2 separate regions of the Homo sapiens genome follow, and region 1 is linked to region 2. Evidence: fine-mapped expression QTL. A gene starts in region 2. The other region holds a variant in brackets. All regions are shown on one strand. Distances are between the middles of the regions.

What was found.
Region 1: its variant is fine-mapped to the expression of PNCK in tibial nerve (GTEx, PIP 0.97).

What each region holds. Positions count from the first base shown.
Region 1 is chrX:153,944,831-153,953,231 of GRCh38, forward strand. HCFC1 (host cell factor C1) reads right to left here. Exons shown (of 26, transcript NM_005334.3): 19 at 7,684-8,128; 20 at 7,011-7,328; 21 at 6,759-6,877; 22 at 6,520-6,657; 23 at 5,983-6,168; 24 at 5,413-5,713; 25 at 4,723-4,786; 26 at 2,727-4,556. The coding sequence ends at 4,517. Among named protein-coding and RNA genes, the nearest start is that of RENBP, 4.4 kb to the left of the region's middle. RefSeq lists enhancers at 1-728, 2,895-3,434 and a silencer at 1-55. The variant G/A (reference allele first, on the strand shown) is at 4,224.
Region 2 is chrX:153,665,324-153,680,239 of GRCh38, forward strand. PNCK (pregnancy up-regulated nonubiquitous CaM kinase) reads right to left here and starts at 8,490. Exons shown (of 12, transcript NM_001366977.1): 1 at 8,457-8,490; 2 at 7,686-7,755; 3 at 7,243-7,374; 4 at 6,803-6,877; 5 at 6,557-6,695; 6 at 6,226-6,349; 7 at 5,962-6,037; 8 at 5,755-5,867; 9 at 5,595-5,673; 10 at 5,421-5,508; 11 at 5,127-5,271; 12 at 4,410-4,807. The coding sequence starts at 7,753. The coding sequence ends at 5,134. It also overlaps the pseudogene RN7SL687P. RefSeq lists enhancers at 1,955-2,456, 2,457-2,956 and silencers at 4,166-4,215, 5,444-5,699.

The sequences.
Region 1 (8,401 bases), 280 kb after region 2:
ATCCTGCTTGGTGGGAAAAGCTGGGATGGCCGGAGGGTCTGGGATGAGGGGGAACGGGGCTGCCACCCACCCCGCCCTACACCAGGGGCCCCGGCAGGGCGGCTGAGGGCCTTGGCCCTACCAAGCCTGTGGGGCAGGGGTGCAGCAGGACAGGGAACAGCTAGTGGGCCTGAATGCAGAGGTCCCTCTGACCTGTCACCACACAGGGTAGACAGGAGGCAAGTTCTGTTTTTGTTGTTGTTGTTGTTGTTTGTTTCTTTGTTTTTTGAGACAGTGTCCTGTCGCCCAGGCAGCTCACTGCAGCCTTGACCTGCCAGGCTCAAGCGATCCTCCCACCTCAGCCTCCTGAGTAGGTGGGACCACAGGTGTGGGCCACCATGCCTGGCTAATTTTTGTATTTTTAGTGGAGACAGGGTTTTGCAATGTTGCCCAGGCTGGTCTCGAACTCCTAAGCTCAAGCGATCCTCCTGCGTCAGCCTCCCAAAGTGCTGGGATTACAGGCGTGAGCCACCGCACCCAGCCTAGCAAGTCCTCTCTTTTGAATCAGTTTGTCACCAACTACCTCAACAGTCAGTAATGGGCAGCCATTGGCGCTAATTTTTTTTTTTTTTTTCCCAAGATGGGGTCTTGCTCTGTCGCCCAGGCTGGAGTGCAGTGGCATGATCTTGGCTCACTATAACCTCCGCTTCCCGGGTTTAAGCAATTCTCCTGCCTCGGCCTCTGGAGTAGCTGGGATTACAGGTGCCTGCCACCATGCCTAGCTAATTTTTTTTTTTTTTTTTTTTTTTTTTTTAGTAGACGGTTTTTCACCATGTTGGCCAGGCTGGTCTCAAATTCTTGACCTCGTGATCCACCTGCCTCGGCCTCCCAAAGTGTTGGTATTACAGGTGTGAGCCACCGCGCTCGGCCTTGGCACTGACTTCTTTACACAAGTGACACAGCTCTAAGGCCAGACAGTAACTGCAGGTAACAGCCCACACCCCCCTTCTCTGGGCCTGTTTTCCAGCTGCCCAGATCTGTCTGTAGCTCTATGACTGACCCGATGATGCTACAAGGCAGCTGGGCTGAGGTGGTTCCTACCTTCCAGGCCAACAGTGCACAAAATGGGTTCCAGCCTCTGGGCGTGGGTACTGCACTGCTGGTCTTTGATGCCACAGTGGCTGTCTCAGTCCCTGCTGCAGGCTGACCCACCCAACCCCAAACAGTTCCCCTTTGGGGTGCTTGGTAATGAGGCTGATGCCCTGGCAGCTGGGGAGGCATCCTCTGTGTGCTCCCACCCACCCTCGGCCTCGGCTCATGCTCAGGGGATGAGCTTTGTGCCCAGCCGGGCTGTATCTACCTGCCCTGCTCACAGGCCTGTCATGTTCACATTCATGTCCAGCCTCCCTCCTGCCTCCCCAGACTGAGTGGTGCCCTCAGACGGAAACGCGGTATTTTCAGATAAACACCAGAGGCATGACTGATGTGGCCCTTGCCTTGTGGAGTGTGATGCAGCCGCGGTGAGACAAGTGAGCTGAAGGAATGCGGAGGGTGGGTAGCCCCACAGGTGCCAGCTACAGAAGTGGGGTAGGAAGAAGCCTTGTACCACCCCCACCAGGCGAAGCGCCCACAACGCCATTTGCCAAAGGTATGGCAAATCCGCAAGGCCCCTCGGTTCTGGGGCCAGCCCCATGTGGCCCCTGGCCTCCACCAGCCCCAGCCATGACTCCTACCGCTCTGCTCTGAAGGACACTTTCCCACCCCTCTCCTTGGGCCTCTGCGAGGCTAGGCTCCAAGGCAGGTCACAGTTGGTGCGGTGGGTAAGACAGAGCCATGGCTCCTGGTGTCAAGCCCTGGCCAGTCTGCTTCCCCCCACCCCCACATGACACAGCAGACCCCACAGGACAGAGGCTTCCCAGAAGAGGTCGCATTCGACAGGGCCTTGCACACACACCCATGCCACAGGTGGAGACACGGAGGCTTTGGTTACTCCAGGAGCTTCTGGTAGCGGAGTGCCTGGGTGCTCTGAGAGGAAGGCTGGGCAGTAGAGGTGTGTAGGGGAAACAAAGGCAGGCGGCAGGGGCTTGGAGGGGGCGGGGAATGCAGGTGCGCCAGGAGCACCAGGCCCCAGAAGCAGGGTGTCACTCCCCTCAGACCCGCCTAGGCCTGTGCTGCTCCGGCCACCTTGCCCCGGAGCTTTCTGGGCCTCCTGGTACAAATTCAGCCCACGGGATCCCAGCTGTCCTACCGACCCAGCTGCTAGGTGGTCAGTCTGGATCACAAGCTCTTGCTTCTTCCCCTTGGGGGCATGGCTCACATTTAAGAGGAAGCCAGAGGAAGGGATCCACCTCTGCAGTACCCGTGGTGTACTTGACTCAGCCCACCTCCCCCCAACCCACCCAAGGAGGCTGCCGCTGGTGACCTGCCAGGCCCTTGCCCCATCCTATCCTCTAGTGCAGGAGGGGAGGGAGGGAGATCTGGGCCCCAGACACAGGAAGTCAGCAGCAGCTGCCCAAGGGGCTCTTTGGCCCTTGCCCTGCAAGGCAGCTACCAAGCAACCTGCTGGACCCTGGTCCGACTTGGTCCAAAGACCGGAGGCCACAGCAGAGGCCTCACTCTGGGGCCTTCTACGCTTTCACCAGAGCTCAGGTCTCCCTCCAGGGGGCTCCCGTGAGCCTCGGGCAGGTCTCAGCCTTCCCGCTCAGGCTTCCTGAGAGGATGCCGGGACACAGTGAGACACCTAGTGGTTATTTCAAAAAAAGTCTTTTAATTGTTCAAAATAGCACAAAACGACATCGCACTATGGTAATATTGAGTCACAGGGGTTACTCTACAATAGTGAACGGTGTACTCTCCTCAGAAACAAATCAATAGGCGCGCGAGAGAAGGGATGGGGTAAAACAACAGGACCAGGTGAGTGGGCTCCAAGGTGACTAAACGTGACATTTTCCACAGCGAAATATACTATAATACAACAAACCAGAGGCCCTGGAGGACACAGGCTGCTGCGTCTCCAGGCAGAGGTCGGTAGGGGAGGGCTGGAAAGATTGGCTGCTCGGTTCAAATCCTTCTGACTTGCTGGCAAGCCTTGCTCCTCGACAGAAGTTTGGGGTGGGGGGCAGAAAACTCCAAGCAGATCCCCCAGCCTCGGAGCCTGGCCTGAGTTCCATGCTGCACAGCTGCTGCTGGTGGCCTGCTCCATTGCCCTAGCCTCCCTTGTGGGTGACACTACACAGTCACCCTCCCAAGCTGCCTCCAAGGACGCCTGGTTCCCCTCCATTCTCCACCCTTTCCATGACGATTTGGGGGAGGTGGAGCAGTGGCTGCGGAAACCAGCAGCCCTGTTTGGGAGGCGGTGCCGGTGGTGCTCAGGGAGGGGGCATGGGGAGAGCTGGAAATCCAGGACAAGGAGGCCCCAGCCCTCCCTCAAGCTCCCCTAGGCTCGACCCTATAGATGCGGAGTGATCGCCCATGAGGAATGAGCTGTCCTTCCTTTGTTCCAGCGGCCTGAGGACAGGCAAAAGGGCAGAGGGCAGGGGCCAGCAACAGGAAGTTGGGCTGGGTGGCAAACAGCAGGCCCCTCGTGGCAGATTTCACACCTCTCCTGCCCTGGCTGGCCCCAGCTTTTCCTCCAGAAAGATCCCTGCCAAGAATTAGCCAAGAAGAAAAAAGTAAAAAAACAAAAACAAAACAAAACAAAACAAAAAAAAGAGAAAAGAAAAAAGATTACACATTCTGTACACAGCTAACAACAACAAAAAAGGGACAAAACCCCACACGCTAAAATTACAATGAAAGTGTGAACTTCACCAATTGCAACCTAAAAAACACAACAAATGCAGCAGTTGGCAGTGCGGCCTGCAGGGAGGTCTGCACAGGCGCTGCCCAGGCCGCCGCGGGGCTCCTTGCCCCTTTTTTCTTTTTCCTTCTTTTCTTTTTTAAAATGGGAAAGAAGAGGGGGAGGGTAGAAGAGGTGGGAGCACAAAGGCCTCTGAGAAAATGTGTAAGCTTCCTGTGGGGTCACTGAGCAGGGTGGGCCGGGGGAGCCTGAGGAAGGGAAGTTAGGTGACTGGAAACACAAGGGGAAGAAAAGAAAACAGAACCAGACACCCAGGCCAGGGTGCCAGGAAAGCCACTCTGGGGAGGGCCAAGAGGGACGCCTTTCCTCCCCTCCATGCCTGCCCCCGACCTGGCCCTCAGGAACGCACAGCCTTGGGAGGGCGGAGCTGGCTGTCCTCAGCTCC[G/A]CCTTCCCTCCCCGCAAAAGTCTCTCCCCAGGGTGGGCGGCAGCGGGGAGGAAAGGAAGCGCGCTCCTCTCTCTGCTTTCCCATCTGCCTCTGCTTCCTCCCAACAGCAATGGTAAAATGTGCTTTCTTTAGATTATTTTAAAAACAGAGAGAAAGAGAAAGGGGAGAGGAGTGAACAGCGGCTCGCGAGGGTGAAGTGCGAATGCTGGGACGGGGTGGGAGGGGTGGGCCCTGGCGGGTGTTCCTGAAGCAGGGGGGTCTGGAGAAGAATCCAGGGGCTAGTCAGCTTCCTCTCACTGACCATCGGCCTTAGATTTCTTTGGAGCAGATTTCCTTGGAAGGCAGAAAAAGGAAAGAGAAAGTTAGTGTGGGCCCTGCACCACTGGAGGCCCTGCTGGTGCAGGGCCGGTTAGGGGCCCCCAGTCATTTGACAAGAGGCTGAACCCAGCTATTTCCACCCCTAGTCTCAGAAGGTTCCCGAGAGGGGCTTCCTGCTTACATTTCTGGAGAGGACATGGGCCGCTTGTTGGCTGGCTTGGTGCCAGAGCTGTCTTTACTGGTTTCTGGAAGGAACGGGAGAGATGCGTGAGCAGCATTGTGACAGAACGAGAGCAAGGAACACATGCGCCCTGCCCGCCTGCAGAGTCTCTTGGTGCCACATGGCATGACCCGCAGCTGGCAAGGGTGGGGCGCCTGCCCTATGGGTGGTCACCTTTTACGCCACTCCTTGGGACCAGAACACGACACCACTCACTCCCCTCTGGACGTAGGTTAGAAACCCACTCAGCTCAGCTCCCACCTCTCACTGCCCTCCCAGGTCCCAGAGCCCCAGGGGAGCTGGAGCAGGAGCATGACCTGACAGGAGGCAGGCTGGCCTCCATCCCTCACCTGCTGCACTCCAGGGACCTGGGACGTGCTGTTTTCGGGCCTGGAAACCTACACTTTCCCGCCAGCCCTCTCACTGCTTGTCCCCTCAAACATCCTGGGGTGGCGTCCCCTGCACCCCCAGGCCCGGAGCTGGGTCCCCTGCTCTACTTGATGGCCACCCCCGTGGGGGGCTGTGTGCGCGCCAAAGGAAGCAGGGAGACGCCGCACATGGGAAAAAATCTCAGATGGTGACAGTTCCTCCTGCTGCACCCGGCTTCCTGGGCCTTCCCTGTGCCTGAAGAGCTCCACGAAGGACACTCACCCTGCAGCCACCTCACTTGTGTGGCCGGGCCATAGCCCTTCTCATTGCGGGCGGCGATGCGGAAGATGATGGCGGGCTTGGTGGTGTAGTCGATGTGGGCGTTGGAAAGGCTGGAGGACTGCACCAGGCAGGAGGGGCTGGGCCCGCAGTACACCCGCATGAAGGCCAGCTGGGCCGGGGTGGAGCTCTTGAGCTCGCCCCCAGCCTGTGAGCTCTGGATGGCCAGGTACACGGAGTACTCGATAATCTTGCCGGAGGTCACAGAGGGTGGCTCCCAGGTGAGGTGAGCACCATCCGGACTCTAGAAGCCAGGGGGTCAGAAGGTCAACAGAACAGGCTAGAGGCTTCCAGAACTGACTAATCATGGTTCCCATAAGCCATTTTCTAACACAGTAGAGATATTCCATGTGGTAGTTCAAGGAGCTTCAAAGAGATCTTCCCCCAAGTGGAAGGACTAAGACAAACTGGGACTCAAAACCTAGCTCTCCTATGCCCCCCCCCGGCCACCTCATGTGCTGAGGCAGGCAGAAACCAACCAGGGACAGACGGCCACCCCACAGCAAGACTCACTTTGCTGATTTTAATGGCACAAGGGGCCCCTGGGAAACCAGGCAGGCACGTCTTAAAGGCTGAGATTTCGCTGAAGGGCCCCCGGCCACAGGCATTGATTCCGGCAACACGAAACTTATAGGCTGTGCCTGGCTGCAGCTCCTGCTTCTTCAGCTGGTTATAGTCAGGGACGGTGCCCAAATCATCCTAGGAAAAGAGGAGTGGCATGAACGCCACTGTGGAGAAGGCAGCTCTGGGCCACCCCAGGAACACTGCAGGTCCATGGTAACTATGGGCCAGAGGGAAAAGAGGTCAGCGGTGGCTGGCCCCTCACGGCAAGGAGGGACGTGGCGAGGCTGACTGTGGCCCGGTACTGGCGGGAAGGAACCAAAGCTCTCCTTTTCTACTGCTTCAGGGGGGATGGTCTCTGCCCACCTTCCTCAGGCTTCCTGGCTACTCAGCTTGGCCCAAAGATGGAGGAGTTTCCTGTAAGCCCCGCTCAGGGTGGTGGAGCCAAGACCCACCCACCTGAGGACATCAGCACCTGGGGACACTTACGTCTGATGGGACAGCATCATCTGGTGGCAGGAAATAGTGTGTCACCATTACATTGGTGCCCTTAATGACTCCCACATCAAACCACTGGTTTTCCTTCTTCATGGGGGCTTTGCTGGGTGGGGGCGGCAGGTCTGGCTTCTGCAAGACAGAATCGGTGCGACGAGATCAGGCCCTCAGCACCTAGAGGCAGTGCTGCCCCCCAGGCCACGGACTCAGGAGCCCCAACACACCCGACTCACCACACCCAGGGACTCGATGCCATTGGCCACTTCGGTCAGGGTAGCTGCAGCCTGCAGCTTGGCTGGGCTGGCCACCACAACCGGCTGGGGGGCCACAAATGTGTTGGATGGAGCCAGGCCTAGGAAGAAAGAAGGTGTCAGCGGGAAAGACTCGGGAAACCTGGCTCCCAAGTGAGACCGAGCCTCCCGTCCTGCCCTCACCTCCCTGGGTGCCCCCACCACCCCAGCACCAATTCGCCCTCAGTCGCTTACTCTCAGTGGCCGTTGAGGGCAGCAGCGCCACAGTGCTGGGGACCGTGCCGGCCAGCTCATTGAGGCAATTGCTCTCAATGGCTGGGTCGTTGAGACTGTCGGCAGGGGCCAGGGCCTCAGTGGGGAGGTGGTGATGCTGCTGCTGGGCCTGGGCCTCCTGCAGCTGCTGCTGCTGCACCAGGGCAGCCAGCTCCTGCTGTGTCAGCACAATGGGTATGGTGGTGGCCTGGCCCTCCTGACCCTCGGCCGACAGGTGCCCCAGCTCCGCCTGAGTCACGGTTGCTGCTGCCTCGGAGGTGTCCATGGGCTCGCCGGTGCCTGCTCCAGGGTCGAGAGAAACACTACTTACTAGGAAGGCTGGCCAGAAGCGGGCAGCCCGGGCGGAGGCCCCCAAAGCCTGTCCTAGAGACCCCGTCCACCTCCTACCGTGCTCCACTGTAGGCTAAGCCCTGGCCGAGGGGCCCTGCCTGTTTCCCAGGCGCTAACCCCAGCCAGCCTGTTCTACACGGCAGTCTCTACTACTTGGCCTGCCTGGGGTCCCCTGTGCTCGTCCTCCCCATCACATCTGGCTCATGCCACCCTCGAGGGAAATGGGCTCCTCTTCCCAGGCTGTCTCCGCGGCCTATTGCTCCCCCGAGCGGCCCGGCTTCCCCAGGGTTGCACCGGCACTCACCCATGACGGCCTGCTGCGCGGCCTGGAGCACCGCCTGGATGGCCAGGGCCTGGGCTTCCTCCGTGGCTGCGGCCTGGGCAGCTGCTTCTGCAGCAGCCGTCACTGCCAGCTCCTCGGGGGTGAGCCCCGTTACCATGAGGGTGGTGGTGCCAGCTTGGGCCTCGGCCATTAGCTCTTGGGGAAGTGATAACTGGTCTACTTCGGACTGTGTGGGTGGGGGTGGCTGGACCACCACAGTGGCCACCACCGCAGAGCCGGCAGACTCCTGGCCCGAAGATGGCTCCCCTGTGCTGCTCAGATCCACGGCGGCCGGGAGCTCAGGGGTCTGGGAGGCTGACAGGACCTCGGCGGACTCCCCCATCAGGGCTGTGGAAGCCGACTGCAGAAGCTGCCGTGGCGGCAGCTGCTGGCGAGGACCTGGCGACACCTGGAGTTCCTCTGGGGGCTGCAGGATGTCAACAGCAGAGAAGGGCATGTCAGAAGTTTCTGTGTTGGCTATGGTCACTGTTATTTTGGCCGGGATGGGGACTTCAGTAGTCAGAGCCCTTGGGGCAGTCTCAGTCATTGATGAGATCTTCTAGAAAGGGAGAGAAGCCCCTGTCAGAGGGGAGGAGAGGGGCCAGAGCCAGGCAGCAGGGCTGAGAAGCAAGCCAGCCCTCACCTTTCCTTGTGGGCCTAAGTTTTCATTCTTGATGGGCCAGCTCCAGCCCATGTTAAA
Region 2 (14,916 bases):
AGGAGAAACTGGCAAAAAGCAGTTGAGCCTCTACTCAGGACATCATGTGAGGAAAGACTTGGTTCCCTGGGGTGAGGGAAACTGTGGAAATCTCCACGGGGTGTGAGGGAGGAGCTCTGGAGAGATGGGCATGAGCTTTTGTTTTTTAAAGACCAGCATGATAGTAAGCATGGGCTTTTTCTATTTCTCAAAAGGGGGCAGATAATAGGGTTGAAAAATATTGAAAAATTATCTTAAAGCAAAAATCAGATCCTGTCACTTGTTCTGTTTAAAACGTCCGTGGCTCCCAGTGCCCTCTTGAGAAAGTTCACTTTCCAGGCTGATCTCTACCCACCTCCTCTCACAACCTCCCTCAACCAGACGGGATTCTTTGTTATTTCTGAAACATTCCATACTTCTTATCTTGCCCACCTGGTGTTGGGGCTAGTGATAGGGATCCGTGGATGAAGCTGGGGTGGGGTGGAGAACATGGTTGCCACATGCCCAGACAGTGCCTGGCAGGAAGAAACATGTGGCTTATAGTGCCAACTCAGCCACCGCCTGGCCAGGGGGCCCGACTTGGTCACTTCGTCTCTTCAACAGACCTGTTGCTCTCCCGGGTTCCCTGGCAGCATCCTCAACTCCCTCACAACCCCCCCACCACCCCCATTGAGTCGATGACCAAGCTCCATCTTTCCAGTAGTCCCACATCTCTTGCCTTGTTCTCCACATGGTTCAGGCTTGTCTCCCAGCCACCAGCCCTGCCCTGCCCCACTTCCAGGCCATCGCTCACACCGAACTCCAAAGGGATCTTTGTAGGGCCCAGCTCCCATGCCCCATTTCCACCACTGTGCAAAGACCTCCCTGGTTCCCACTTAACAGGACATAAAATTGAGGCACAGAGGAGCTTAAAGGCAACACAAGCCAGGTGGCATGGTGGCTCACACCTGTAGTCCTAGCTACTCGGGAGGTTGGGGATGACTTGAGCCCAGGAGTTCTGGGCTGTAGTGTGCTATGTCCATCAGGTGTCCGTACTAAGTTCAGCATCAATATTCTGGGAGCAGAGGACCACTAGGTTGCCTGCGGAGGGGTGAAACAGCCCAGGTCGGAAACGGAGTAGGTCAAAACTCGTGTGCTGATCAGTAGTAGGATCACACTTGTGAAGTGAATAGCCACTGCACTCCAGCCTGGGCAACACAGTGAGACCTCATCTCGTAAAAAAAAAAAAAAAAATGGCAACACAAACCATCTGCAAGACCCCAACTCAAATCCAGCGTGGGTTCCCCCAGCCCAGGGTTCTCTTTCCTTCAGACACACAGAGTTTGCATTCACAAAGAGAAGTGGGGAAAGAATGCCGCCTTGTTTTCTTCAATTCCCCACACAATCATGTCCCAAGCAAGACCTCGCTTGCATGGATGCAAGCAAGAGGATGCAGTGGCAGAGTGTGGGTTCAAATCCTCACTGTGCCACAAGCTGTATGGCTTTGGCTCACTTAGCCTCTGTATGCCTCAGTTTCTCCATATGTGAAGTGGGGATGATGATCATGATAGCAGCTATCTCACAGGTGAGGTTCAAGTTAATACATGGAAAGCTCTTCAATAAAGAGTCGTTACTAGCATGCTTTTTTTTTTTTTTTTTTTTTGTAAAGGTGGGTTCTCGCCATCTTACCCAGGCTAGTCTCGAACTCCTGGGCTCGAGGGATCAGTGTTCTTTTTATTAAAAGGAATAAGCCTTCCAGAAATACCAGATACAATGCTAGATACATATTTGCAAAGAGAAGGGTGAAAAGTAAGTCTACTTTCATGCCCGTCAGGCACCTCGAACTCACCACATCCAGAATCAATCTCATTACTCCTCCCCCAAAGTAATGCCCGTTGAACTCTTCTTGATGAATGTTCTGCTGCCAGAAACATGATCTACCTGGATCCCCCCGCTTCATTCCCCACCTGCAACCCATCACCAAGACCTGTCCACATGACTCCCAAAGAGCTCCTAGGACCACCTCCGTGTCTCCCTGTCCCTAGGGTGGACCCACAGGTTGAGCTTCCCTTGAAACTCCGCTACCCACAGGTTTGCTTCAAGATAGAGCACGTGACCCACCCTGTGTGGCCCAGAACAGCAGAGACAGCTTCCTTTTGTGATGCCCACCAGGGTTCCCCTGACCCTCAATTCTGGTCTGGTTCCAGACACCCCAATTCCTAGCAGCCGGCCCCGGCTCAGCACCTAACCCACACTGGGCAAGGATGCTCTCTGGCTACAAACCCCTTCGATGGCTCCCCACTGCTCCTAGACTACAGCTCCAGCTCCTTCCCCTGCCAGGCTTGGTCTGGCCCGTTCCTCTTGCTGCCAGCCTCAGCACCAGCCCTGAGCCTGAGAAGCCCTCACAGTGTCCAGCACAGCTCCCTTGCCATCACTTCACACACACACACCACCTTTTGCCTTTGGCTAAACCAGTCCTTTCTCTCTCCCAGGCTGCCATCCCACTGCCTAGGTGACCCAAACTGCCTTCCTCATATGCGGTCTCGGAGGGATGAAGGAGGGGTGCCGCCTCTGCTTGACCTGGGGGTTCCCCCTCTCGCCCCTATCACAGATGGGCAGGACCTCTCCCCCAAGGTTGGACTTCCCCAAGGCAGGATTTGCAGGGTGTGGGGTAGGGGCAGTCGCGGAGAGGAATGGATTTGAGAGGCTGCCCAGGGTGCTGAAGGAACTAGGGAGGCTAATGGACGTCTAAAGATGGGGCCGTGGCTCCCCCTGCTGACGGGAGGCCATATTGCACCCTGTGTCAAGGCAGCCCAGAGCTGGCTTAAGCTCCAAGCCGAAGCGATCTGGCCACGTGCCTGGACTGGAAGAGCTGGCTGTTCTGAGCGAGTGCCGGTTTCTTCTGTAAGGCTGGCTCTGGCACTCCTGCTCATTGCTCCCAGACCCACAAAGATCATTTTTATCATCCCCGTAAAACCACCCCTCCAATAGAGGGCGTCCTCCTGGAGGGCAGGCGCCTCTTCTGATAGGCCCAGGTCAGTGCCCAGCACCTGGCCCAGAGTAGAGGCTCAGTCAACATCTGACCAAAACAACAGCAAGTAGGTATCGTGGGAGTCCAGTGTGAACAACAGAGAAGATGGGAAGGGGGGCCCACAGCAGGGGTGCCCACAGGCAACAAGGCCCCACGTAGGGGTGAGGGCAGGTGGGACAGGTCTTGGAGGCGAGGAAGCCGTGGTACTGGCTGACTGAGGTCCCCTGTGGGGCCCAAAGCCTGGAGCGAAGGATGGCCTGGGAGCGGCTGTGGGGATGGAGGAGGAGGCTGCCCACCCACCTCCAGCCTGCTCTCCCTGGTGGAAGCCAGGTCCCCTGGCTCCAACCCTGAACCCCACTCCAGCCTTCACCCACAAGACCCAGGCCAGCCTTGGTTTGAGCCTCACCGCCTCCCTTTGGGGCCCAAAGTTCAACAAGGAGAGTGATCTTCTCTACCATTCTCGCCAGTCAAGCCATGGGTCATCAGGCTTACACTCTGAGGGCTGGCAGGGAGCAAGGGTCTCAGAGTGGAGGGAGGGGTGGCCAGCTTGCCTGGAACTCTCGCTGGGGCCAAGAAGTGGCTCTAGGGGTCTTCCCCTGATGGGCCCAAGAGAAAGGCCTAGAGGGGCCAGCAGAGCTTTGGGACCCAGCAAGGCAGGGCTCTGGAGCCCTGGCCCCTCCAAAATGGAGGTTGGTGGGGCTGGGGCCACTCAGACCAGAGGACAGGCCACGGCTCTCCACTTCAGAAGCCACCGCCAAGCTGCCACTGCTCCCAGAGCCCCAGCTGCCAGCCCAGGTCTACCCCAGCCTGGAGCCTGAGGGTTCCAAAGCCCCCGCACAGCAGAGGGGAAGAGGGCCCTGTGTCGCCCTCTCCTGGACAAGGAGCTCCTCTCACCCCCTGACCCTGGGGTCCCCTACTCTTCTGCTCGACAAGATGGCCTCTGGCCATCAAGAAAGGGAAGGGAGGGAGGGATGGAAGGTGACAGTCCTGGGCTCTGGTCGCCCTCCATGCACCTGTGAGCCCTTCCCAGTCCCAGGCACCTGGCTGAGGCACCCCAGGCCCGGCCCTGCATGGCAGGGGCACTGGAGCACATCCCTGGGGGTCTGGAGCCAGCACTCAGCCTCCTGACTGCGCCCCCTGCTGGCAGCCCAGCAGGCGTGCGCTGCCTCCACTTTGTCCCAGGACCCCAAGGCTGGGCAGTTACACCTCTGGGGTGGCAGAGCTGCCCGGCCACGCTGCCACTTGTTGGTGCTTTGGGGGGAGGGGACAGGAAGTTTTTGGACAGTTGGAAACTTGTCTGGGGAAGCAGAGGTTCAGGTGGCAGTGGGCGAAGCCGTGTGGCAGGCTCTCATTGGTTTCCTTCCCACAAGTGACCAGGTCCCCTCCACACTCGCCGCACCCCCAGGTCACCACTGGCCCATTGCTGTATCTTTCTTTATTGGTTTGGGGAAAACTGGAGGGGGCTGGAAGGCCATGACCATGACACAAGCAGGACCACCCACACTCAGCGAAGCACACAACAGCCGTGCAGGAAAGACAGCCCCTGAGGCCCGCCTGCCAGCACCCCCTCGGCTTTTGGCGGGGCGGGGGGGGCAGGGGCGGGAGAGGCAACAGGGGAGGGGAGCCACTGCCCCCAGGCAGGGCAGAGCCTGGGGACAGACTTGGGGGTGCCCCATTCCAACCCCAGCGCCATGCGCCACACCCTCAAATCTCAAAATCCAGCAGAGGCCAGCCCCAGGGGGAGGGGTTGGGGGAGGGGACCGAAAGCATCCAAGGGAAGGAAATCTGGGGGTCAGTCCACTTGGCCTCGGCATCTGCCTGAGAGGGAGAAGCAGAGGGAAAGGGGGTAGTCAGGAGCCGGCCTGCCAGCCCTGTGCCCCCACCCCCCGCCTCGGTCAAATCCCGGACTTCTTAGAGGCCCTCTCCCCCTGCACCCCCTTGCCCAATGTCAAGCACCCACTGGCCCTCCCTGTCCTTCCACCTCTCCTGGGGCCCTGGCTCCTCCCTCTGCTCTCTGCCTTCAGTCCTCTGGCCTGTGGGGGCCACCCCACTTAGCTCTTGGCCACATGGAGCGCCACCACCCTCTAAGCTCTCCAAGGAGCCAGCTCCTGGGCGTGCAGGGTCCACCCAAACACACCTGGGCATCACCACTTGGGGGGCTGGCCAGCACGGAGGCCTGAGTGGCTGTGGCGGGCCATGCCCTGCTCAGAGGCCCCCTCGCCCTCTGGGATCTGCCCCAGCTTCCGGATGTGGCGCAGGAACGAGGTGGCATTGAAGGCTCGCTGCCAGAAGAGAGGGAGATCAGGCCAGGCCTGGGCCCAGGCCCCAGCCCCTAGACTGTGAGGACTGCAGTGGTCACTGGGCAGCCACGGCGATCAGGCTACAGCTGGGGTGCGGCGGGCGACCACACTGGGTCTCTCTCCACACTGACCTTCCAGTGTGTCCGAGCAAAGTTCTTCCGGATCTGCTCACTGACAGAGCCTAAGATGTCCCTGTCGAAGGCTGTGTCCCCAGAGATCCTGGGGAAAGGCTGAAGGTCAGGGGGGGTCTCTCTGCAAATGCAGGCCCCCTGGCCCTGGGGCAGCTCAGCAGGGCTCCCACTCACCAAAGGTGCCGCAAGGCCTGTTGGCAGGTGAACCTCTTCTGGGGGTCTCGCTCCAGAAGGTGCCGGATGAAGTCTTTGGCTGGAACAGGGAGGCTGGGTCAGCCTGTCAGGTCCCCACTCCCTTGCATCACCTCCAAGCACGGGCCAGCCTCAAGCTCACCTGATTCTGAGATGTCATCCCAGAAAGGAGAGTCAAACTCATAGCTGGCCCTCAGGATCTGGCTGAAGAGCTCAGGGTCGCTCTCGTCGTAGAAGGGGGGGTACCCACACAGCCTGGCACCCACAGATGAATCATCCAGCTGTCCCACCCTCCCCAACCCAGCAGGGGCAGGCAGGCAGGAGACAAGCCTTCCCAGCGGTCACTCACAGGATGTAGGAGATGACGCCCAGGGCCCACACATCTACGGCCTTCCCGTAGGGTTTCTGCTCCAAGAGCTCTGGGGCTGGGGGCCAGAGACAGACAGACGCACGCACAGGCACACACGCAGCCATGCCGCTCAGTGTCACTGGCTCGGCCTACTCAAGCCCAGGAATGGCCCACACAAAGGCAACGGGCACAACAGCCTTCCCGGCTGTCTAGGGTCCCCCAGGCCACCCCACTCCCAGCAAGCCTCAGGGTGTCGTCCCTCACCCACATATCCAGGGGTCCCACAGGCGGTGCCTAGCATGTTCCCAGCCTGGATTTTGGAGAGTCCAAAGTCAGAGACCATGATCTTCGAGTCCTCAAAGGGCGTGGCATACAGGAGGTTTTCGGGCTGTGACACACGGACACCGGGAAAAGGGCCAGTCAGTCCTGACGCGGTGCCGGTGCTGGGACAGGATGGGGACTAGGCACTCTCAGGTTCCCCAGAGCCTTGGTGGAGCAGGAGATCAAGAAAGGCCCCAGCCGTGCTCCCGGGAAAACAAAGGCAGGGCCAGGTGGGCAGGTGGGAGGGTGGGGTGCAGAGGCCCCAGCCAGGCACCTTGAGGTCCCGGTGCACGATCCCCAGGCTGTGCAGGTAGGAGACGGCGCCAAGGACCTGACCCACCAGATGGCTGGCATCCTTCTCTGTGTAGGAGCCGCGCTCCATGATGCGGTCAAACAGCTCGCCACCCGTCACCCTGGGGGTGCCAGGGGTTTGGCTGACCCAGGCACTCAGCCTGGCCTTCAGCCCCACTCACTGCTCAGTCCCTCCCCGGCTCCCACAGCCTGCCCAGGCCCTCCTCACAGTTCCATGGCCAGGTAGAGGTGGGAAGGGCTCTCGTGGACATCCTCCAGAGCGACGATGTTGGGGTGACTGATCCTGCAATGGCAAGGAAGCGCCTGTGGGCCAACAGAGTCAAGGGGTGCTCTGTCCTGAGGCCCTGGGGAAAGCCTCCTCCCTCTTCTCTTCCTCCCACCTCTGCTCCCCATTCCCTACCACATGCCACCCCTGCCCGGTCCAGGAAGGCAGAGCTCCAGCCTGAGCCCCGGCCTTCCTTCTAAAGCCCATTTGAAAAGCACAGATCAATATCAACTCACTCCCTTTGCCACAGGGATGTGCAGGCCCAGAGAGAGCACTGCCCCAGGCCTCCCAAAGGTTGGTGGCCAGGCCTGGACTAGAGCCAAGGACTGCTTGCACCCCCCCATCGACCTATGCCCCGTCCCAGGGCCCCGCGAGGTGCGCACCTACGGAGCACTGCGATCTCGTTCTCCACCAGGGCCTCCTTGCCCCGGAGGGCCTTCTTGGGGATGCACTTGAGGGCCACGAGGTGTGCGGAGCCCCGCTCCTGGGCCAGCACCACCTCGGAGAAGGCACCCCTGCCGCAGACGGGGCGGTGGGAGGTGGGAAGGAAGTGGGAAGAGAGGAGAGGCAGGAGGGAGAGAGAGTGGAGCGGGGAGGGCCCCCTGTGAAGGAGATGGGGAGGCCCTACCTGGCCCTGTGCCACCCCCCACCACCACTCACACATGCCATCTCACAGACTCACTCACATTCACACACCCCTACATATTCACACACACACACATCATCTCACACCCACTCGCGTAGTCACACACACATGCCATCTCACACAGGTACACACACACACACACACACACACACACGATCACACACGCGCGCGCACACTCACGAGCCGAGCCTCTCGCGGATCTCGTAGACGCTGCTGATGTCCTCCGTGTGTTTCTTCAGCAGCAGCATGTCTGCAGGGGCAGGGGAGAGGTGATGGGGGTCTCTCCCCGCCCCGCCGGGGGCAAGGGCAGCTTCCTCCTCCACCCCCTGCCAGGCAGGCCTCAGCCATTGCCGCTGCGCGCTCGACCCTCCCCTCCCCCGTCCAGGTCCACACCCCCAGACGGACGCCTCCCAGCGAGGCCACCGCATACACGCCTCCACATCCCAGGCCTACAGCTGCTATCCCACGCACCCTCCCCCGCACCCCGAAGGCGACCAGCGCCTGGATGCTGCCTCTCTGCCTCCACACATCCGGCCGCTTTCCAGAAGGCTCCATGCTCACCCACGCCGTCCCTCCCCCATCCACACATCTACAGCGCCCAAGCCCCCACCCCCGCCTAGACCCGCCACCCATGGCACAGCGCCCACAGGCACCCGCTGCCCAAGCCACCAAGCCGCCCGGGATGCACCTGCGACCCCCGCGCGCAGCCACCTGCCAAGACCGCGGCCACCCACGCGGCCGCAGACGCAGCCCAGCCCTCGGCGCCGCGGAGCAGGGGGACCTGGCAGCCTGGGCCGCCCGCGTCCCGAGCTGCGTGGACCGAGCGCGTGCGGGCAGGGGGCGCGCCAGGCGTGACAGGTGTGCTGCGGACGCGCAAGGCTGCGGCGGCCGCGGGCCGGATCCGGTGCGCCCCCGCCCCGCGCGTCCCCGCGCCCCGGAGCAGGTGCAGACCTGGAGCGGGTGCCGCAGCGTCGTGCCGCGCAGTGGCCGCAGCGCCAAGCCCCCCGCCCGCGCCCCGCCGGCCCCGCCCCCTCCGCGCACGCCCCCGCCAGCCGCCCAAGCACGCAGTGGCCCAGCGCGGCCGCGGCGCCGCAGGGCACCTTGTAAGGCAATCGCCGGGATCCGGCTCGGGTGCCGGCCGCCACCGCCCAGCCCACTGCTCGCTCGCGCCGCCTCCCGGAGCTGCGGCCCGGCTGGGCCGGCCCCAGGGCCTTTGCACCACCGGTGGCTGTCTCCCGGAGAGCTCTTCGGCCACAGGTCGGCAAGGCTCTCTGCCTTCCAGTCTCTGCCTTCACCGCCTCTCCGAGGACAGGCTGACCCGGCCACTTGCCCGAAAGCAGCCTCCATGCCTAGCTCCAGGACCCTGCAACCCTGCACCACAGCTCTGCCACCCTGGGCTCCCGGCACTCACTGGGCTCCCTCTGGCTCCACCATTAATCCCTCACCCTCGCTTTCTTCTCTACCCAGCAGCCAGAGCATTCCTTTTATTGAGATCATGTCACCCTCCTGCAGCTCTCTATGTCAATCCAAGTCAAAGCATGAGTCCTTAGGGGGCGGCCTAACGACTGCCCTGGCCCCTCCTCCTCCACCTCTTCCCCGGCCACACTGGCCTCCTGACGGCCCTAGCCTTTGCTCCCCTGCCTGGAATGTTCTTCGATCAGATATCTGCCTGGCTTGGCTCCTCGTTCCATCAGATCTCGGCTCAAATGTCCCCTCCTCAAACCGGCCTCCCCCGCCCTGCCCCTGCCAATTCTCTCCGCATAACCCTGCCCTGTCTTTAGAACGTCCAACCGCAAAAATCACCTTCTTCGCCTGGTCTTCCTCACCAAAGCGTCCGCTCCCAGAGAGTGTATCTCCGCGAACCCAACCAAGACGAGCCCAGGAAATAAGTGCGGGTGACCGAATTCAATCCTGCATCCAACAGTTACTGGACCCCCCTCGCTGCTCGCCATCCAGTCCCATGAGGTTGTGGCCAGCATCACAAGGGTTCCGTCAAGTGACCGTGGGCCCTGGCATGACACGACGTCTTCAAGAGAGTCCACGGGGCAGGAAGAGTTTTTAAAAAATCATTTTTCCAGACCTCAACTCCCATATATACTCTGTGTAAAAACTGGGAAATCTGAGAAGGCCCCTAGCAGCTCTTGCCCCCTGGCCTTTCCCAGTCACCCCTCCCAGGACACTGCAGAAGGCTCCAGGGACCCCAGCACTCAGAAACTCCAGTCCCACCTGCTCCTCTATGTGAAAATGGTTTCCTGGGACCGACATCTAAAACAGAAAAAAATAGGAATGGAACTGATGGTGAGCCCCTTCTCATGACAGCAGGAAGTGCAATTTGTTTACAGATACCTACAGATAGTTCCCCAGAATGTCTAATACGCCAATGGTGCTTTGCCCAAGCAGAGTTCTACAACATGGTCCTGGGTTATAAAAAGAAATAGAAATACACATATTTCTGTGCCCCAGAAAAGTAATAAAAAACTGCCCGCGTGGAAAGAGATGGCACAAAGAGACCTATCTGAGGGGCAGCAGATGGAAACTGGAGGCCAGAAGGAAAGCACCCACCTCCAAAGTGGGCCTGGGAAAGACGAGCCAGCGGGCAGGTATTGGTCCACGAGGTGACTCAGGTGGCCCTGGCCTCATGTAAAAGCTGATGGCACAGTTTTTGTTTGAATCATTGTATCATGGGGTTTTTTTTGGTTTGTTATTGTTGTTGTTGTTTGAGACAGGGTCTCACTGTCGCCCAGGCTGGAGTGCAGTAGTGCCATCTCAGCTCACTGCAGCCTCTGCCTCCTGGGTTCAAGCAATTCTCCCGCCTCAGCCTCGAGTAGCTGGGACTACAGGTGCATGCCACCACACCAAGCTAATTTTTGTATTTTTAGTAGAGGCAGGGTTTTACCATGTTGGCCAGGCTGGTCTCGAACTCCTGACCTCAGGTGATCTGCCTGCCTCAGCATCCCAAAGTGCTGGGATTACAGGCGTGAGCCACCGCACCAGGCCTATATTGTGTGTTTACAAGAGAAATTACACCCTCCGGCCTGGCAAGGTGGCTTATGCCTGTAATCCCAGCACTTCAGGAGGCTGAGGCTGGAGGATCACTTGAGCCCAGGAGTTCCAGCCTAGCCTGGGCAACATAGCTTTTCTTTTCTTTTTTTTCTTTTCTTTTTTTTTTTTTTTTTTTGAGATGGAGTGTAGAAAGTAAAAAGTTCCTCTTCAAAGTTTCCCTTCTTATTAAAAAATAAATCATAAGTTTAGAAATAATAGTTTCTTTTAAAGACTAACTTCCTTCAAGCCTCCTTGCTTTGTGCTAATAACTCTTTGTTAAGCCCTATCCTATGTAGCTGTTAAACATGCTTACAGGCACGTAGTACATTCTATGTCCTTGTACTTTAACCAAGATATCTGTGCTGGACGTGCTCACAGGCATGTCCCAGCTCGCAGCCTATCTCCCTTTCCTATTGGGGAATATTATTACTTTTCTAAGCCGTTTCGTAAGCAACTTCCTCTTTTCCTTTATCCTTCCATTACTTTTATCTATTTTCAAAAGTTTTAAACTACTAGCCAATCGGGTTTTAGGTTAGATTGTGAGGTCTGGCTGCAGCCAATGGAAACAGGACACAGTAGCAAGGACAAACGGCATAAGGAATAAAAATTGCTTCCCTCCTTTGTTTGGTGTACTCATGTGGCAAAACTGCTGGCGAGTGTACCCTTTCCGCAGAAAGTTAAAAAATGGCCTTGCTAAGGAGATTAAACTTATGCCGGGTGTGGTGGCTCATGCCTGTAATCCTAGCAGTTTGGGAGGCCAAGGTGGGCAAATCACCTGAGGTCAGGAGTTCGACACCAGCCTGGCCAACATGGTGAAACCCCGTCTCTACTAAAAATGTAAAAATTAGCCGGGCATGGTGGCTCACGCCTGTAATCCCAACTACTTGGGAGTCTGAGGCAGGAGAATAGCTTGAACCTGGGAGGTGGAGGTTGCAGTGAGCCAAGATCGTGCCATTGCACCCCAGCCTGGGGCACAAGAGTGAGACTTCATCTCAAAAAAAAAAAAAAAGAAAGAAAGAAAGAAAAAGAAAATTAAATTTATGTTCAAGTGCTATTTCTTTGTGCCACCGGGGAACAAACATTTCTAACATGGAGTCTCAGTCTTGTCACCCAGGCTGGCAGGCAATTGTGTGATCTCCGCTCACTACGACCTCCGCCTCCTGGGCTCAAGCGATTCTCCCACTTCAGCCTCCCAAGTAGCTGGGACTACAGGCACCCGCCACCACGCTGGGCTAATTTTTGTATTTTTGGGTAGAGACAGTTTCACCATGTTGGCAGGCTGATCTCGAACTCCTGACCTCAGATGATCCACCCTCCTCGGCCTCCCAAAGTGCTGGGATTACAGGCGTGAGCCACCGCGCCCAGCCACCTGTGTCCTTTTGATGTCCGTTCATCACTGCATGTGTGTGTGCATGCCCGTGTAGGTGTGGGCGTGTCTGTCTCTGTGAGCCCTTCCTTACTTTCTGGCTCTGTGCTCATCCCTTATATTTCCTGAACCGGTCCTAGAAGCAGCCGTTTTCTCTAAGGAGCCATTTTTGAGAGAATGGTGTTGGAGACGAAGATCTGGGCGCTAGGTGTGCCCATTGTTCCTGGAGTATTGCTGCTTCTAGGCCCTCTCCACTGACAGCAAGAACTTATAGTGTGTGTGTGTATATACATATATATACATAGTGTGTATATATATATAGTGTGTATATATAGTGTGTATATATAGTGTATATATATATATAGTGTGTATATATATAGTGTATATATATAGTGTGTATATATATAGTGTATATATATAGTGTGTATATATATATAGTGTGTATATATAGTGTATATATAGTGTGTGTATATATATAGTGCATATATATAGTGTATATATAGTGTGTATATATAGTGTGTATATATAGTGTGTATATATATAGTGTGTATATAGTGTGTGTATATATAGTGTGTATGTATATATATAGTGTATATAGTGTATATATAGTCTGTATATAGTGTGTATATATACACTAACCCATGTACATATAGATAGATATGTAGTATATATAGTGTATATATATACACTAACCCATGTACATATAGATAGATAGATATACAAGCCCATATAATACCCATTTAATATATATACCAACCCATGTTATGTTACTAACATAACATCTATAAACAGATACACACGCGCATCAGTATCTATATTAAACTCAACAGGAGTGCACACTGATGTCTCCAACTCTAATCCATCACCACCTGGGTCATTCTAGCTGCCTGCCCTTGCTTGTCTATAACCTCCCACTCTAAAAGTGAGAAACCCAGGCCAGGCACGGTGGCTCATGCCTGTAACCCCAGCACTTTGGGAGGCTGAGGCAGATGGATCATCTGAGATCTGGAGTTCAAGACAAGCGTGGCCAACATGGTGAAACCCCAAATCTACCAGAAATATGAAAAATTAGCCAGGCATGGTGGTGCATGCCTGTGGTCCCACCTACTCGGGAGGCTGAGTTAGGAGGATCTCTTGAGCCTAGGAGGTCAAGGCTACAGTGAGCCATGATTGTGCCACTGCACTCCAGCCTGGGCCACACAGCAAGATCCTGTCTCTAAAAATAAAATTAAAAATTAAAATTAAAGTGAGAAACCTGGCTCCCACCGTCTTCCATCCATTGCCGTAGTTCTTGAATTCCGGTATAAAGGTGGAGAGGTTGCAGAATCATTCACCTCTACCCTGGTGGGGGGTGATCTTATCAATTAGAGTGCGGCGCTTATGTGTTCTTCCTTTTGCTCTTAGTCTGACAGATGCCTATTTTAAGTTCCCTCTGTCTGCTGTAAAGTTCTATGGGTTTTGACATATTCAGAGTGTCACGTGTCCACCATTACAGCATCATACAGAACAGTTTCCCTGTGCTACAGAATCCCTGTGCTGCGCCTACCAAGCACGATCCCCTCTCTCAGACCCCTGGCAACCATGGATCCGTTTTCTGTCTTTTTTTTTTTTTTTTTAATCTATTTTGCTTTTTCCGGAATGTCAGGTAAATGGAGTCATAGAGTAGGTAGCTTTGTCAGGCTTTTTACTATGCAATATGTATTTAAGATTAACTTATTTCTTTGCATGGGTTCATAGCTTTCCCCTCTTTATCACTGACTAGTATTCCATTGTCCAGATATACCACATTTTATTTGTTCACCTACTGAGGAACATCTTAATTGCTTCCAGTTTTTGCCAATTACGAATAAAGCTGCTAATACTATCGCACTGGTCTTTAAGGAAAAAAAGGCTGCTATAAATATATGTGGGGTGGTTTTTGTGTGGACATAAGTTTTCAAATCATTTGGGTAAATACCAAGGAGTGTGATTGCTGAATTGTATGGTAAGAGTATACTTAGCTTCGGAAGGAACTGCCAACCGCTTTTCAGGGTGGCTGTACCTCGTCACATTCTCACCAGCAATGAGTGGGAGTTCTTGCTGCTCCAGGTCCTCGCCAGCATTAGGAGTTGTCAGTGTTTTGGATTTTGGCTATCTAGTAGGTATGCAGCGGTATCTCCTTGTGGTTTTAATTTGCAATTCCCTAAAGATGTATGCTGTTAAACATCTTCTGATATGCTTATTTGCCATTTGTATTTCTTCTTTGGAGAGGCATCTGTTCAGATCTTTTGCCCATTTTTAAATTGGGTTGTTTTCTTATTGAGTTGGGATTTTTCTTTTCTTTTCTTTTCTTTTTTTTTTTTTTTTTTTTTTTGAGACACAGTCTTATTCTGTTGCCCAGGCTGGAGTGCAGTGGTGCAATCTCAGCTCACTGCAACCTCTGCCTCCTGAGTTCAAGCGATTCTCCTGCCTCAGCCTCCCGAGTAGCTGGGATTACAGGCACCCGTCACCATGCCCAGCTAATTTTTGTATTTTTAGTAGAGGCAGGGTTTCACCATGTTGGCCAGGCTGGTCTCGAACTCCTGACCTCAGGTGATCCACCTGCCTCGGCCTCCCAAAGTGCTGGGATTACAGGCATGAGCCACCGCACCTTGCCAAGACCCCATCTTCTTCAAAAAATTTACAAATTAGCCGGGTGTGGTGGTGTGTACCCATAGTCTCAGTTACTTGGGAGGCTGAGGCAGCAGGATCACTTGAGTCCAGGAGTTGGAGGCTGCAGTGAGCCATGATCATGCCACTGCACTCCACCCTGGCAACCAGAGAGTGATAGCACAACTCAAAAAGAAAAGAGAAAAGAAATTACACCCTTTGCAACTGTGTAAACATCTGCTGAAATCCTGTACGTGTCAACTTTGAAATGTATGTGTGTTGGTTGGGTGGTGGTGATGTGATACGGTTTGGATGTCTGTCCCCTCCAAATCTCATGTTGAACTATAATCCCCAATGTTCAAGGTGGCGTCTAAT